Homo sapiens: one gene and its partner. The protein of the gene in region 2 interacts with the protein of the main gene of each other region in a pairwise test. Each region holds a gene or a part of one and is shown on either strand. Other genes may lie near its edges.

Region 1 (7,034 bases), on a different chromosome or scaffold from region 2:
CCGCAGGACCCATTCACCTGGCCAGGCCATGCCACCGAGGAACTCACCGCCTGGCCACGCCCCCGAGGAGCTCATCCGCCCGACCACGCCCTCCGAAGAATCTACCTGCCTGGATACGCTCATTCATAATCTCGTCTGCCTGGCCTCGCCCCCAAGGAGCCAATCTGCCTGGCCACGCCTATTAATGATCCCATCGCCTGACAAAGCCCGCCCCTCTAAACCACCCCCCCAAAGATTTCATCCGCCTGACCACGCCCCGCGAAGAGCCCCTCTGCCTGGCCACGCCCCCGATGAGTCCCTCCACCTGGCCACGCCCCCGAGGAGCCCCTCCACCCGGCCTCGCCTCCGTTGAGCCCCTCCGCCTGGCCACGCCCCCCGATGAGTCCCTTCGCCTGGCCACGCCCCCCAAGGACCCCCCCCCGGCCACGCCCCCTGAGGAGACAATCCGCCTGGCCTCGCCCACTCAGAGAGCACAAAGTTCTCTTGCCTCGCCCTAAACTCAGAATCCCAACGCAGATGTCCAGAACTGGATAAGGCAGGGCCCGGAGGACAGCCTCCGCCCCCTCCATCCTTACCGGGGTCTGGAAGGTGGAGTGGAGCTGGGTGAGGAAGTGGGGCCGGCCGCCAGGACCCCGGCCCCCCAGCGCCAGCACACGTTTCTCCACCAGCGTGCAGTCCACATCGTCGTCCTGGACGATCACGTCCTTTTTCAAGATCTTGATGGCGTAGAGCTCATCAGAGCCCCTGCGCTCGGCCAGCATCACCTATGCGCACAGTTCCAAAAGGGCCAGTCCATGTTGGGAACCCAGTGGTACAGGACCTGCCCCCTCCCTAAGGGACGCAGGGAAACGGGATCCCAGGCCCTTCCTCCATCTCTTAAGGGACTGACAGCCCTGACTTGCCGCCCGTCCCCTCAAGGAGAGTGTCCACATCTGTAAACCTCTCCTCTCCAGGAACCTGAACGGCCCAACCTAACCATATTTGAAGATGCAGGAGCCCAGTCTCTTCCCACCCCCACTTCCTCCCTAAGAACCAGAAATCTGACCTTCCCACAGACATCCTCCCTTTCCCCCAGAACCCCAGGAATCCAACCTTCCCAAAACTGCCTTTTCCTAGAACCATGAGGAAGCTGAAGTCGGAGATGTGCAGGCGTCCTGGACTCGCCCCGAAGAAGCAGCGCTTGGGGTCGGTGGGACTAGGGGAAGGGGAGGGGATGGGAGAGGAAGAGGGGCCCATCCGCACCCGCTGTGGAAAGGAGAAAGAAAGAGCCAGAGGCAGTTAGACCTTACACAGCGATAAGGAAATGCTCCCAAGAGACACAGCACCCAAGAAAGGAAAGGATGAGAATCGCTAGACAGAGGAAAATGGCCACCCTCCTACCCTGTCCTTGGCTTAATTTTCTCTGACTCCCCATAGCCTGGAGGGTTTATTTATTATTCAACAAACACTTAGCTCTTTTTTTCTTCTTTTTTTTTTTTAGATAGCTTATCATATGCTGTTTCCAGAAAACCCTGCTATCGTTTCCATTTTACAGAAGAGGAGACTAGCACAGAGACGTTAAGTAACTTGCCCCAAGTCACACAGCAGGTAAAGGACAGAGCCAGAAATGAAACCCAAGCAGTCCAGCTCTAGAATCTGGTTGCTCTTAGCCTCTAAGCCGGAATTCCCTAGAGGGTTTGGTAAAACAGATTGCTGGGTCCCACTGCCAGATTTTCTAACTCTATAAATCTGGGGTGGGACCTGAGAATCGTTATGTGTAAAAAGCTTCTGGGTGACATGGGTGCTGCCAGTCCAGGGAGCACACCTGGCTTTCAGCTAGGGTCCCTTCTCTACCTTTTCCTGCCTCGGCCCCCCAGGGAGGGGGCCCAAGACTAAGCTGCTGTCACAGCTTCCACACTTGTCCCTCTACATGGACGGCTGCCCTTTCTAATGCATTCTCTACTCAGCAGGCACAGGAGCCAATTTAAAAATAAATAAACCAGGTCATGTCTCCCCTATGCTTGTAAACCCTTTAACTGCTCCCTCTGTGTTAAGATTTTATTCCACATGACTTGCAGAGCCAGGCTGAGACTGACACTGCAGGTTGTTCTTCTCTCTCCCAGGCTCCATGGTCCAGCCACCCTGGCCTGACACTCATTGTCCTCCCTCCCACCTCAGGGCCTCTGGATGTGCCGTTAGGTCTTCCTGTAAAGCTCTCCCCTCCCCTTCCCTCCTAGTTGTCTCCCAAACACCCTTTAGACCTTGACTCAAGCATCACTTCATAGAGGCCTCGCCTGACTTTTTAAACTGGGTCAGATGCCTCTCTTACCACCCCTTGGTCACCATGGACAGCACCTTCCTGGCACTTTTATTCTTAGTAATTTACATCTATCTGTGTGACTATCTGCTTTCTGCCTGTGAGCTCCCTAAGGCAGGGGTCTGCTTTGTTCGCTAAGACACAGTAACACTGCCTACCTCATTGAGGCTACATAAATATTTGTTGAGGGCTGGGTGCGGTGGCTCATGCCTGTAATCCCAGCACTTTGGGAGGCCGAGGTGGGCAGATCACCTGAGGTCAGGAGTTCAAGACCAGCCTGGCCAACATGGCGAAGCCCCATCTCTACTAGCAATATAAAAATTAGTAGGACATGGTGGCACATGCCTGTAGTCCCAGCTACTTGGGAGGCCAAGGCAGGAGAATCGCTTGAACCCGGGAGGCAGAGGTTGCAGTGAGCTGAGATCGCTCCACTGCATTCCAGCCTGGGCGACAGAGCGAGACTGTGTCTCAAATAGATAAATACATAATAATAATAATAATAATAATAATAATAATAATAATAATAATAATCAGGGCTGTTTCTGTTTGCTGTGTTGTTAGCCCCGTACCTAGCTCAAGGCTTGGCACAGAGTTGGTGTTCATTGGTAATATTAAGTGGTGCCTGCTGAACTGTGGGAGAGTGCTGTGAGCCACAACAGGCACACACACCACCCTACACTCCCTGCCTCTAGGCCTTTGCCCACCATCTGCCCTGCTGGGTTTCTTGGGTTTGTACGGGAGGATCATCCCTGCTGATCTCAAAAGACTCTACCTCTTTGGCTCAGAATGTCCTCCCGCTGGTACCCTTGTCTCCTGCAGAGCCCATTCTCTCTTTTTTTTTTTTTTCTGAGATAGAGTCTCGCTCTGTCACCCAGGCTGTAGTGCAGTGGCACGATCTCGGCTCATTGCAAGCTCCACCTCCCAGGTTCATGCCATTCTCCTGCCTCAGCCTCCTGAGTACCTGGGACTACAGGCACCCACCACCACGCCCAGCTAATTTTTTTGTATTTTTAGTAGAGACGGGGATTCACCGTGTTAGCCAGGATGGTCTCGATCTCCTGACCTCGTGATCCACCCGCCTTGGCCTCCCAAAGTGCTGGGATGACAGGCGTGAGCCACTGCGCCCGGCCGCAGAGCCCATTCTCAAACTTAACTTTGCAAAAGGATCACCTGAGGAATTAATTTAGTAGGCAGACATTTGAGGCATCAGAGAGATCGTCACTGAGTAGGTCTGCAGAAAGGCTGGGGAATGTGCTTTTAAAAGCAAGCACTCTAGGAATTCTGATGCAGGTGAACCCCCACACACAACATTAAAAACTCTGGTGAAAGTTTCTGTAAGAGTCCAGTAAAGACTATAACATGTTGTTGCTGTTGTTGAATCTTGAAGATTCTTGTCTTCTTTTTTTTTTTTTTTTTTTTTGAGACAGAGTCTCCCTCTGTCATCCAGGCTGGAGTGCAGTGGAGCGATCTGGGCTCACTGCAGCCTCTACTTCCCGGAATCCAGCAATTCTCCTGCCTCAGCCTTCCGAGTAGCTGGGATTACAGGCGCCTCCACCATGCCCAGCTGATTTTTGTATTTTTTAGTAGAGATGGGGTTTTGCCACGCTGGCCAGGCTGGTCTCAAACTCCTGACCTCAGGTGATCCGCCCGCCTTACTAGGATCACAGACATGAGGCATCGTGCCCAGTCTATCATATGCTTATATATTTTGTTTAATGTCTTCCTCCCGGTGTAAATCCCATAAGGAAAGGAACTTTTTTGTTTGTTTGTTTGTTCTTTCCCTGCTTTCTCTATATCCCCAGTGAGTAGAGCCACGCCTGGCACACAAAGATGCTCTGTAAAGTATTTTTTGAAAGGGTAAATGAGGGAGAGAGCATTACTTCCTCCTGCCTGAAAATCTGGTCTCTCCTTTGGGAAATCCCGCCCTTCTACCAGGTCTCACCTCTCTAGGAAGCTTTCTCTGACTCAGGCTGTGCCAGGGACGCCCCAGTGCCTGAGGCTGTCTCCATTACAGCAGCATTGCTCCTCGTTGTGAATGTCTGGGTTTGTAACTTTGTCCTCCACTAGAAGAAGAGCTCCACCAGGGAATGGCCTGATTCTATTCCCAGAACAGGGCCTGGCTTATGACACCCTAGAAAATGGGTATTCGTCTGGGCGTGGTCGCTCACGCCTCTAATCTCAGCGCTTTGGGAGGCCAAGGCGGGTGGATCACTTGAGGTCAGGAGTTCGAGACCAGCCTGGCCAACATGTCGAAACCCCATCTCTACTAAAAATACAAAAATTAGCCAGGTGTGGTGGTGCGCTCCTGTAATCCCAACTACTCAGGAGGCTGAGGCAGGAGAATCACTTGAATCTGGGAGGCAGAGGTTGCAGTGAGCTGAGACTGCATCACTGCACTCCAACCTGGGTGACAAAAGGAGATTCTGTCTCAAAAAAAAAAAGAAAGAAAGAAAGAAAGAAAAAGAAGGATATTCAGTGAGTGAATGAATGAATGGAGAGATTAAGATGATCATGCTTGATAGATTTTTTAAAACTCAAGAATCGGCTGGGTGTGGTGGCTCACGCCTGTAATCCCAGCACTTTGGGAGGCTGAGGCGGGTGGATCACCAGGTCAGGAGATCGAGACCATCCTGGCTAACACGGTGAAACCCCATCTCTACTAAAAATACAAAAAATTAGCCGGGCATGGTGGTGGGCGCCTGTAGTCCCAGCTACTCAGGAGGCTGATGCAGGAGAATGGCGTGAACCCAGGAGGCGGAGCTTGCAGTGAGCCGAGATCGCACCACTGCACTCCAGCCTGGGCGTCACAGCGAGACTCCGTCTCAAAAAAAAAATAAAAAACTCAAGAATCGGTCGGGCGCAGTGGCTCATGCCTGTAATCCCAGCACTTTGGGAGGCCAAGGCAGGCGGATCACCTGAGTTTGGGAGTTTGAGATCAGCCTGGCCAACATGGCGAAATCCCATCTCTACTAAAAATAAAAAAAAAATTAGCTGGGTGTGGTGGCGGTCACCTGTAATCCCAGCTACTCAGGAGGCTGAGGCAAGAGAATTGCTTGAACCCGGGAGCTGGAGGTTGCAGTGAGGCGAGATTGTGCCATTGCACTCCAGCCTGGGCGACAGAAATAAAAATAAAAATAAAAATAAAAATAAATTAAAAAATTTTAAAAAACCTCAAGAATCAATTCAGGCGTCACCTCCTCAGGGAAGTCCTCCCTGACCACCCTCCCCCAGGCTGGATTAGTGCCTCCGTTAGGCCTCTTCAGTGCCCTGGGCTACCTCTAATTTAGCACATCTTCCTGTATTTTAAGTATCTGTGACTGTGTCCCTACCTTGGAGAGTTGCTTGAGGGTCAGATTCATCTCTGGATCCTGGATTATTCAGCAAGCACAAGACAGGCCTAGCACAAATGTGTGCTCAACTCATGTGTGGGGAATTGAAGACAGAAGTCAGAGGAGGAATAAGAAATCAGAGAAGTAGGCAAAAACTGCCTCCATTCAACGCCCTGGTTCTACTCACCTCATACAATTCCAGGGGGTAGTTACAAGCCTGGGAGAAAAGAAAGAGAGAGTCAGGGTCCCAAGAGATGCAGGGGATCGCCCTAGAACAGGGGCTGGTGGCCCCTAGTACCCTCAAGCCATGGCGATAGATAGGAACTATAATTCCCATCAGACCCTGGGGCTCGAGTCCCCTAGAAGAGCAGAGGAGGGAGTCCTAGGGTCTTCTGGGAACTGTAGTCCCAGGACCAGCGGGCACTCAGGGGTGGAAGGAAAGGCCAGCTCTGAACCGTGGGAGGCTGGGCTGGGCTCCCTTGAGGAAGCCAGGGTCTGGGTACCTCAAACTTCTGGAGGAGGCTGCAGTTGTCAGCATCGGCCACCGGCACATTGTAATACTCGCCCTCCTCCTGGTTCAGTAACTTGTACCTGACATACAGACGGAGACCAGAGGCGGGCAGCGGGGATGGGGCACCCATGGGAGAGGCAAAGACATTGGAAGGGAGGAAAGAGACACAGAGAGACGGACACAGAGATGGAAGAGAGAAAGAGTGAGATAAAAAGAGAGGGAGAGGGAGAAAGGGAGGGGAGAAGAAGAGAAGAATAGAGAGAGAGGGGTGTGTGCGTGTGTGTGCGTGTGTGTGTGTGTGTGTGTGTGTGTGTGCGCATGCTGGGAGGCAGAGGGAAGGACAGTGGCCTGGAGGAGAGAGACCACACACAGATGGAGATGGTAATATTGCGCTCCATCCCCAGGCCCCAGCCCTGCTCCTCACCAGCCATCCACGGGCGCCTTGAGCAGCTCCGAGACGCCAAAGGACATGGCCCCCATGAAGTCGTTGCGGGAGGTCCGGTCCCAGTCCCACACCTCCACGCTGAGCCGGCGCTCCACATCCCCTGGCTTCAGGTTGCTGCAGGAAGGTGGGGTGGATGGGGTGCAGAGCCGAGCTCATGGCTCCCCTCGGTTCCCCATCCTTGGTGCTGGAGGTGGGGGCAAACCCAGCCAGCTGGGGCTCCTCTCCTGCTTTGTCGGTCTCCGACCTCTGACCTTCCCAGCCGGGCTCTCTCTCCAGCTAGGGCTTTGGGGCCTGAAGTAAACCTAGAGAGCTCTTCCTCTCCCTTCCTCCTGCATTCTCCGCCCCTTCCCATCTCTGTCTCTTGTCTCTCGAGATCTCTCTCTCTGAGTCTCTGTACCCTTCTCTCCTCTCTGGGTCTCTATCACTCTGTCTTCCTGTCAACTGATCTCTGTC
Region 2 (7,000 bases):
GACGTGGGTGGTGCTGGATTAGGGGAGTGCGGCTGGCTAAGGGAAGTGAGTGGGGCTGGGTTAGGGACGTGGGTGGGGCTGGGTTAGGGAAGTGGGCAGGGCTGAGTTAGGGAAGTGAGTTGGGCCCTGGGTTAGGGAAATGGGGGGATTGGGTTCGGGAAGTGGGTGGGGCTGGATTAGGGGTATGAGCGGGGCTGGGTTAGGGAAGTGGGCGGGGCTGGGTTAGGGATGTAGGTGGGGCTGGGTTAGGGAAGTGGGCGGGGCTGGGTTAGGGGTATGGGCGGGGCTGGGTTAAGGAAGTGGGTGGGGCTGGGTTGGGGAAGTGGGCGGGGCTGGGTTGGGGAAATGGGCGGGGCTGGGTTGGGGAAGTGGGCGGGGCTGGGTTAGGGGTGTGGGTGGGATCAGGGCTCCACAGGACAGCGCTCCTGGGGTTTTCTCCAAGCACCCCTGTGGTCTACCCTGCCGGGTAAGCATTCCCTCTGGCACATGTCCAGCCAGGACAGCACTAGCCTTCCCCCTTCCTGGAAGCCTCCTGTTTGCTGCCGGGGTTTCCCCTCCCTGCTGCACACCCTTGTGAGAACTCGGCAGTCTCTTCTGAAGGACATTGATGCTGTGCCACAATGTCATATGCTGGCTGCTTCATGCCTGGTTCTGCTTGAACCTCATCTCCACGCAAACCCCAGCCTGGGCCACAGGATGGAGCCCAGCGCTCGCCTTCCTGGTGCTTCCGGAGCTCATCACTTACTCCGTGATGTTTGTTGGTGTCTGTGTGTCCCACCCTTGAGGATGCCAGCTCCTAGCAGGCAGGGGCTTCCGAATTCTGTTCCTGACTGTGACCCCGGCACTCAGAGCAGTGCCCGGCACACAGCGGGTGCTCAGGAAACTTGCTGAGTAAGAGAGTGGGTACATGAATGAATGAAGAGGACTTTCTGGGCAGTCCATCTGGCCCTTTGTCCTTGTCTTTGGCCCTCACTGGCGAGCTAGGCCCTGCACTGCCTGAAAGCTCATCCGAGGGCTCGCCTCCTCCCTGAAGCCCTCTCACACTCCCCACCTTCCAGGCCACCTTTCTCTGAATTCTCCAGTCACTTGCTTTCCTCATGCTGACTGCACACTGGCCCGCATGACCTTGAACTGTGGGAGTCTGTGGTCCTGTCTTCCTGACCAGACATCAGCTCCTTGAGGGGCAGGACACTGCTGCACCTTTTGTGTCCCGAGCACAGGGCCCTGTAAACAGCAGATGTTCAGTGTGTGCTGATGACGCTGATGCGGTGAAGTCAGCGAACAAAGTCCAGCCAGAGTCGTTCACAGCTCCAGATGACATCTCCCCAGCAGACCTCCCACAGCTTCATGGGTAAGACTTTCAAAGTCAGAATGCTTCTGGTGGCTGAGTCATCTTTCTTGAGTTGAGATGGGGTGGTTTGGGATGCTGGTCTCAACTTTATGTCTCATCCTTCCGCGATAGCCTTATGTTTGAATTTGACTCAGTCTTCAAGCCTGGATCAAACAGCACCTCACTCGACAGTCTTTTGTGCTCTTCCGAATGGAGCTGATGGCTTCCTCCCTTCACACTTGGATCTGAGCACTTTCCTGCCCACTCTCAGTGCAGCAGTGCACCTGCTGGATGGTTTTACTGAGTCACATTTCTGATGTGCCTCTCGGGTGAACAGATCTATCTTTTTCCAGCATCCCTTCTGTGGGCATCACTCCTGTCTAATTTCAGGTGGTTCTGAAGGGACCATGAGTCACAGCACCTGCCCATCACCCCTGCCCCAGGAACACTCACGACACCTAGAAAGAGACGTTCATTTTAGCCCTTACTCTGGCAATAGTGACTGGGCCTGGGGATGTGCAATGGGCCACAAAAGACCAATCAGAATATTTTCATGGGATTTAAACACAGACACTTGGAGAAATAGGGTATTTTCATCAGGAGCAGCTCAGCTGGGAGGATATAAGCTTGGAGTTTCCAGAGTCTGGAGAAAGCCCGTCTGTAGTAAAAAGGGAATAAGCCTGAGGTAAGGCGAACTAAGGGAAAAAAAAAACAGAAAGAGAGAGAAAGAGAGAGCATCCTGACATCTTCTGAGCCCTTAGGCCCAGCAGAACCTAAAGAGCTGAACTTCCCAGTGAAATGCACCAGAAGATTCTCTTGCCATCAAGAGAGGCTGGAACGGCACTGCCCACACTAGCCTGGGCTTCAGGAGGGCGAATTCGCCCCCAGTTCTTCCCCCTGCTGCTCATGGCCACCTGCTGGGTATAACCAGTACAACTTCAACACATACTTTCTGATAATAAAATAAACGCATGAATGACTACTTTTCTCTCTATCACCCATTTCTCTATTTCTCATTTATACAGAAATAAATGAAAATTGTTAGAAGGAGGAGGAAAAGAGGAGACCTTTTTTATTGTGCCAGGCACTGTGCAATATCTAGTTTAGCCCTTGAAATGACCCTGAGGCATGACTGGTATTATCTAGTGTCTCGTATTATCTCTACTGCAGGCAAGGAAACCACAGTTCACAAGCAGGTCAGGGAAGGAACCACCATTCCAGCTCAAGTCTCCCCAACTCCACCATTGTGACCATCTTTCAGGTGGCTCCATTTGCACAGAAGTAACAGGCATGTGAGCTTTATAGTACTTACAAGTCCAGTGTTCCTAGAAACCTCAGGGGCAAATAACACTGAAATATTCCCAAGGCAATGCTTTGTTTTTCTGTAAAATTGTTCTGGGCAGAAGAGGAAGAAGAGACCGAGCGCCTCGGTCTGCAGTGCCAAGCACGTGGGTGCTGTGAGTACAGCTGCTGTGGCAGGAGGGCCTCTTTCCGGGGCTGGGGTCTTAGTCCTTGGGCAGGGCTGGGCAGTGAGGGGACCTCAGCCTAAGGGAAGTTCTGCCATTAACAACCTGTGACGCTGGACAAGTCACACGACTCTTTGGAATTCAACTGGAACAGGGATTCATTTCATTTCTTTTCTTTTTTTGAGACAGAGTTTTGCTCTTCTCACCCAGGCTGGAATGCAGCGGCACGACCTCGGCTTACTGCAAACTCTGCTTCCCAAGGTTCAAGTGATTCTCCTGCCTCAGCCTCCTGAGTAGCTGGGATTACAGGCACCCACCACCACACCCACCACCACACCTGGCTAATTTTTGTATTTTTAGTAGAGACGGGGTTTCACCATATTGGCCAGGCTGGTCTTGAACTCCTGACATCAGGTGATCTGCCTGCCTCGGCCTCCCAAAGTGCTGCGATTACAGGCGTGAGCCACCGCACCAGGCCAGGGACTCATTTCATTTGTCTGCTTGTTTTGGTTGATGGAGGTGGCTCCTGGGCCAGTCCCAGGGACAGCTGTGATGCTGGGGCCACCAGTGTGAGAGGATGGGTACATGGCATGAAACCCACTACAGGGCTCTGGGAGGGGCAGGCGCCCTAGTGGGCTGCACCCGTAGATTGCCCTAACACTCCGGCTTTAGGCAGCCCTCGGTGCCTCCTGCCTGGGGTCCCAGCATTGCCGATGGGAGCGGGAGAAACATTTTGGACAGAGCCAGCCTGGTGTGGAAGAGAAAAGAGTTCCCGACCTGGGAGTCAGCTACTGGGGTCCCATCCCACCCTAAGCCATTGGTTTGGGTGTGATGACCTCCGTGCCCTCTTCCACCCTGACACATGCAGAGTCAGCCCACAGCAGCAGGTAGTGGGACCACCATGTCATGGAGCCACCCCCACGGGGCCAGGGAGTAGAGGCGCCGACTCGCCCACGTTTCCCTGGGGACTGTCTCCCAGCAGAGCCCGGTTTGCAGTGTCCTATGCTAATGGTTGCACTTCAGCTCAGGATAGAAGCTTCCGTTTCCACACCTGGTGCAACAAGAGCAACCACATGCATTTTTTAATCACACTGCATTTGCAAATTTTTTTCCCCACACACACAATGACCTGGGCTAGGGAGGCCTTCCTAAGAATTATACCACAGAGAACTGCACACCAGAGCCATCGAAAGAACTGCCCCAGGTCCCACAGCTCCATGAGTGGCGCTGGCTGCGCTTGCACCCAAGTCTTCTGACTCCGAGTTGAACCCTGCATCTATTGTCTAGGAAACAGGGAAACCTTGCTTGTCTCGCTGGGACATTATGAGAAAAGAATCTATAAAAATACTTAAGACCTTTGCAAATTCAAAGTGCTGGGTCCATGCTGAATAATTGATGGGCTCAGGCTGCTTCAAGCTGACGCACAGTCCTCCTGCAGGAAGGCTGGGAGCGCGGAAACCTTCCTTTTCATTTAGCCCGGTGAAAGAGGCTGCTGAGAAAATTGCCAAGAAATACTGCTTCCCTGTTGGTCAGAAAGAGGCCCTGGCTCCTGGGAGCCACAGATCTAATTTATGGGCTCCCTGCAAGGCGGGGAGAAAGCCCAGGGCCACTGCAGGGAGAGGGGCTCTTGGGACGCCCAGTCGCTGGTGTGTCCCTTCCAAGGCTGCGGGGCTCTGGGAAAGGGCGGCCCTGGCAGGCAGGAAGAGGTGCCTGAGAATCTGACAGTTTGGAGGAGATGGGGAGGGGGAAAGTAGCCATGGGAAAAAAAGAGAAGGATGTGGTTTTCCTCCCGGGAAACGCTCGACAAGGCAGGGATGCCCAGACGGGCTAAGGCAGCCTGCTGCCGCCCCGCCAACCGCCACATGAGACCCAGGGCTTTTCTGGCCAAAGGCCATGGTGGCAGTGGGGATTAGAGGGCAGAAAGTAGACACAGAGTGGCCTTTAAAGCAATCTGCAGAGATGAAAGCAGAATGCAGCGCAGGCCGGTACCCTGGCTATACAAACAGGAAACACTTCCCAGCTGGCTGAAACTCAGACACCAGGGCACAGCTAAGGACACGGGGGATGTGTGCCCTCCCCTGTGGCTTCAGCCCACCAGAGTGGCTCCTAACCAGCTGGCATTGGCCTCAGCCTCCAAACAAGGCAGATCTAGGACTATTTGAATCCACAGGATAATTGGCTCCAAGTTGAAAATAGGCAGAATCAACAAACGCCAGCTCAAGGGGGGATTTGTCCAGATGATCTGATTTCTATTTTACTCTGCAGCACAAGTTCCAAAGCCCAGAGTTTCTAAAAGGCTTCGTAAGGCCTTTCACGGTGTTCCCTGTGCTTATGCCAACTGGGCACCTCCACGTTCGGGCTGGGGGTCCTGACCTCTCAGGGGCTAGAAGGGTCCTTAGGGTTTCCTGGTGTTTGGACGCAGTGGGGTCCCAGTGTGGCCTCAGCCTGGCTTGGACTGCCCAGTGCAGCCTGTAAGTGGCTGCAGGTGCAGCGCTGTGCCTGCACTGGGGTTTGGCAGGGACATATGGCCTGAGTGCCCGCAGGCAGGGCAGAAAATGGGATGTGTGACTTTGCTTCCCTGCCGTGTCAGCTTGCGCTGGAGGTACTTGGCTGCTGAAGCCTCCCGGGTTCACACCTCGCAGAGGAAAGGAATCAGGAGCAGGAGAAAGGGATGGAGCAAGTTAGAACAGGGCAGAGCCGGGTGTCGGGGGACGTGGGTTGGTTGACAGCCAGCCTGCCACTTACTAGTTCTATGACCTTGATCAACAGATTCAACCCTCCTAGGCCTAGGTTCCACATCCATGAAACAGGATTGTAATGGATCGTACCTCACAGTCTTGGAAGGACCAAATGAGATCAAGTTTACGTGAATTTTTAGTTACACCTCTAATACGACTGTCACCTCCTGCTCTTGACTGTGCTTGGCTGTCACTCTCCTTGGTCCATCGAATTGGGAAATGGCTCCTGCACTGCGAAAGTTAACTGAAGCGTGCAGAACAGCATTTTACTGTGAGCTCAGGACTCTACTGCATCAGCAACCTCGCCAGACTGCACGCTCCCTGAGGGCACGGCCTTCACCTTCTGCTTCCTTGGTAGGGTGGTGCATTTGGATCCTAAACTCCTTTGCAGAGATGGTGGGCTGTTCTGTGTGGTTTCATTATGCCAGCTACAACCTAGATGTATTCAAATCAGCAACGCCCACCCCTACCCCACTCGCAGCCACTGCCTCGAAGCAGAAAGCATCTGCTCCAGAGGCAGCAGGGACAGGCACTTCAGCGTCTTTATCTCTGGTCAGCATTGGGCATTTGATGATTAGCAAAGTAAATATTAGAAATGCGTTCTCATTGGTAAAGACAGAGGTATTCAAGATGTGTGGGTTGGCTAAATGAATTCAGAGACACTCTTGACTCAGGAAAGAGCAGGTAAAAGAATCCATGAGAGCTCCAGGGAGGTGTGGTCAGGGCAGCAGAGAGCAGATTGCTGGGCTTCACCGAGCCCACAGGACAGGCTGTATGGACTCCGCTGGACTTGTTTCAGGTAAATATTTGTCCAAAAATGTGTACGTCTGGCAGAATTTGCTCTGAGGCTGCTTTCATTCAAACTTGATAATGAGGCTGGCTTCACCTTCCTCCAAGTTTTCAGTGGCTGCTATCAAACAAATAAACAAAATAGCAGCAGCCACACAACCAAATTTGGGAAGTGCCTTTGTGACTGGAGGGACTTAGGTCAGTTCACGCCTGGCATGGGACTTCCAGGGCGAAGTGCGTGGAGCTGATCACAAGACTAGGGAGGTAGTGTCACTTTCAACTTGATGGTGGACAGTGGGGGCCAGGTCCCTAAGGCAAAGACCCTCATCCAGAACCTTCCTGGGTGGCCACCACCCTAAGCATGAGCCTGCTGACCTAGGGGCTGCTGTGCCCAGCCAGCTCGCAGAGGCTCCGCTGGCTTCCTGGAATGAGGAAACACTGCCCAGCCTTCGAGAAGGCCTGGAACTGTAGCCAGTGCACAAGTCACTGCCTAGGCTCTTTCCATACCTGCCACTGGACCTGGAAAATGGGGTCTGACCTGGGCCTGTCCCTCTAGGGATGCCCAAGGGACAAGCCCTGCGAGGGAGCCCTTGGGCATCTACTGCCAGCTTCCACCTTTGGATCAGGATGCCCTGGAGGGAACTTCCGGCCACACTGAAGAAATGGGGGCTTGGTCC

The links. The genes of interacting proteins can lie anywhere in the genome.
Region 1: the proteins of FAM167A (region 2) and PRKCG interact in binary tests that used the Homo sapiens proteins (3 or more experiments, as listed by UniProt).

The regions. Positions count from the first base shown.
Region 1 is NC_000019.10:53,892,170-53,899,203, reverse strand, and holds part of PRKCG (protein kinase C gamma type), read right to left. Parts: intron 6,696-7,034; coding exon 6,561-6,695; intron 6,217-6,560; coding exon 6,129-6,216; intron 5,843-6,128; coding exon 5,813-5,842; intron 1,246-5,812; coding exon 1,093-1,245; intron 765-1,092; coding exon 576-764; intron 1-575. UniProt on the Homo sapiens protein: Calcium-activated, phospholipid- and diacylglycerol (DAG)-dependent serine/threonine-protein kinase that plays diverse roles in neuronal cells and eye tissues, such as regulation of the neuronal receptors GRIA4/GLUR4 and GRIN1/NMDAR1, modulation of receptors and neuronal functions related to sensitivity to opiates, pain and alcohol, mediation of synaptic function and cell survival after ischemia, and inhibition of gap junction activity after oxidative stress.
Region 2 is NC_000008.11:11,456,754-11,463,753, forward strand, and holds part of FAM167A (protein FAM167A), read right to left. Parts: intron 1-7,000.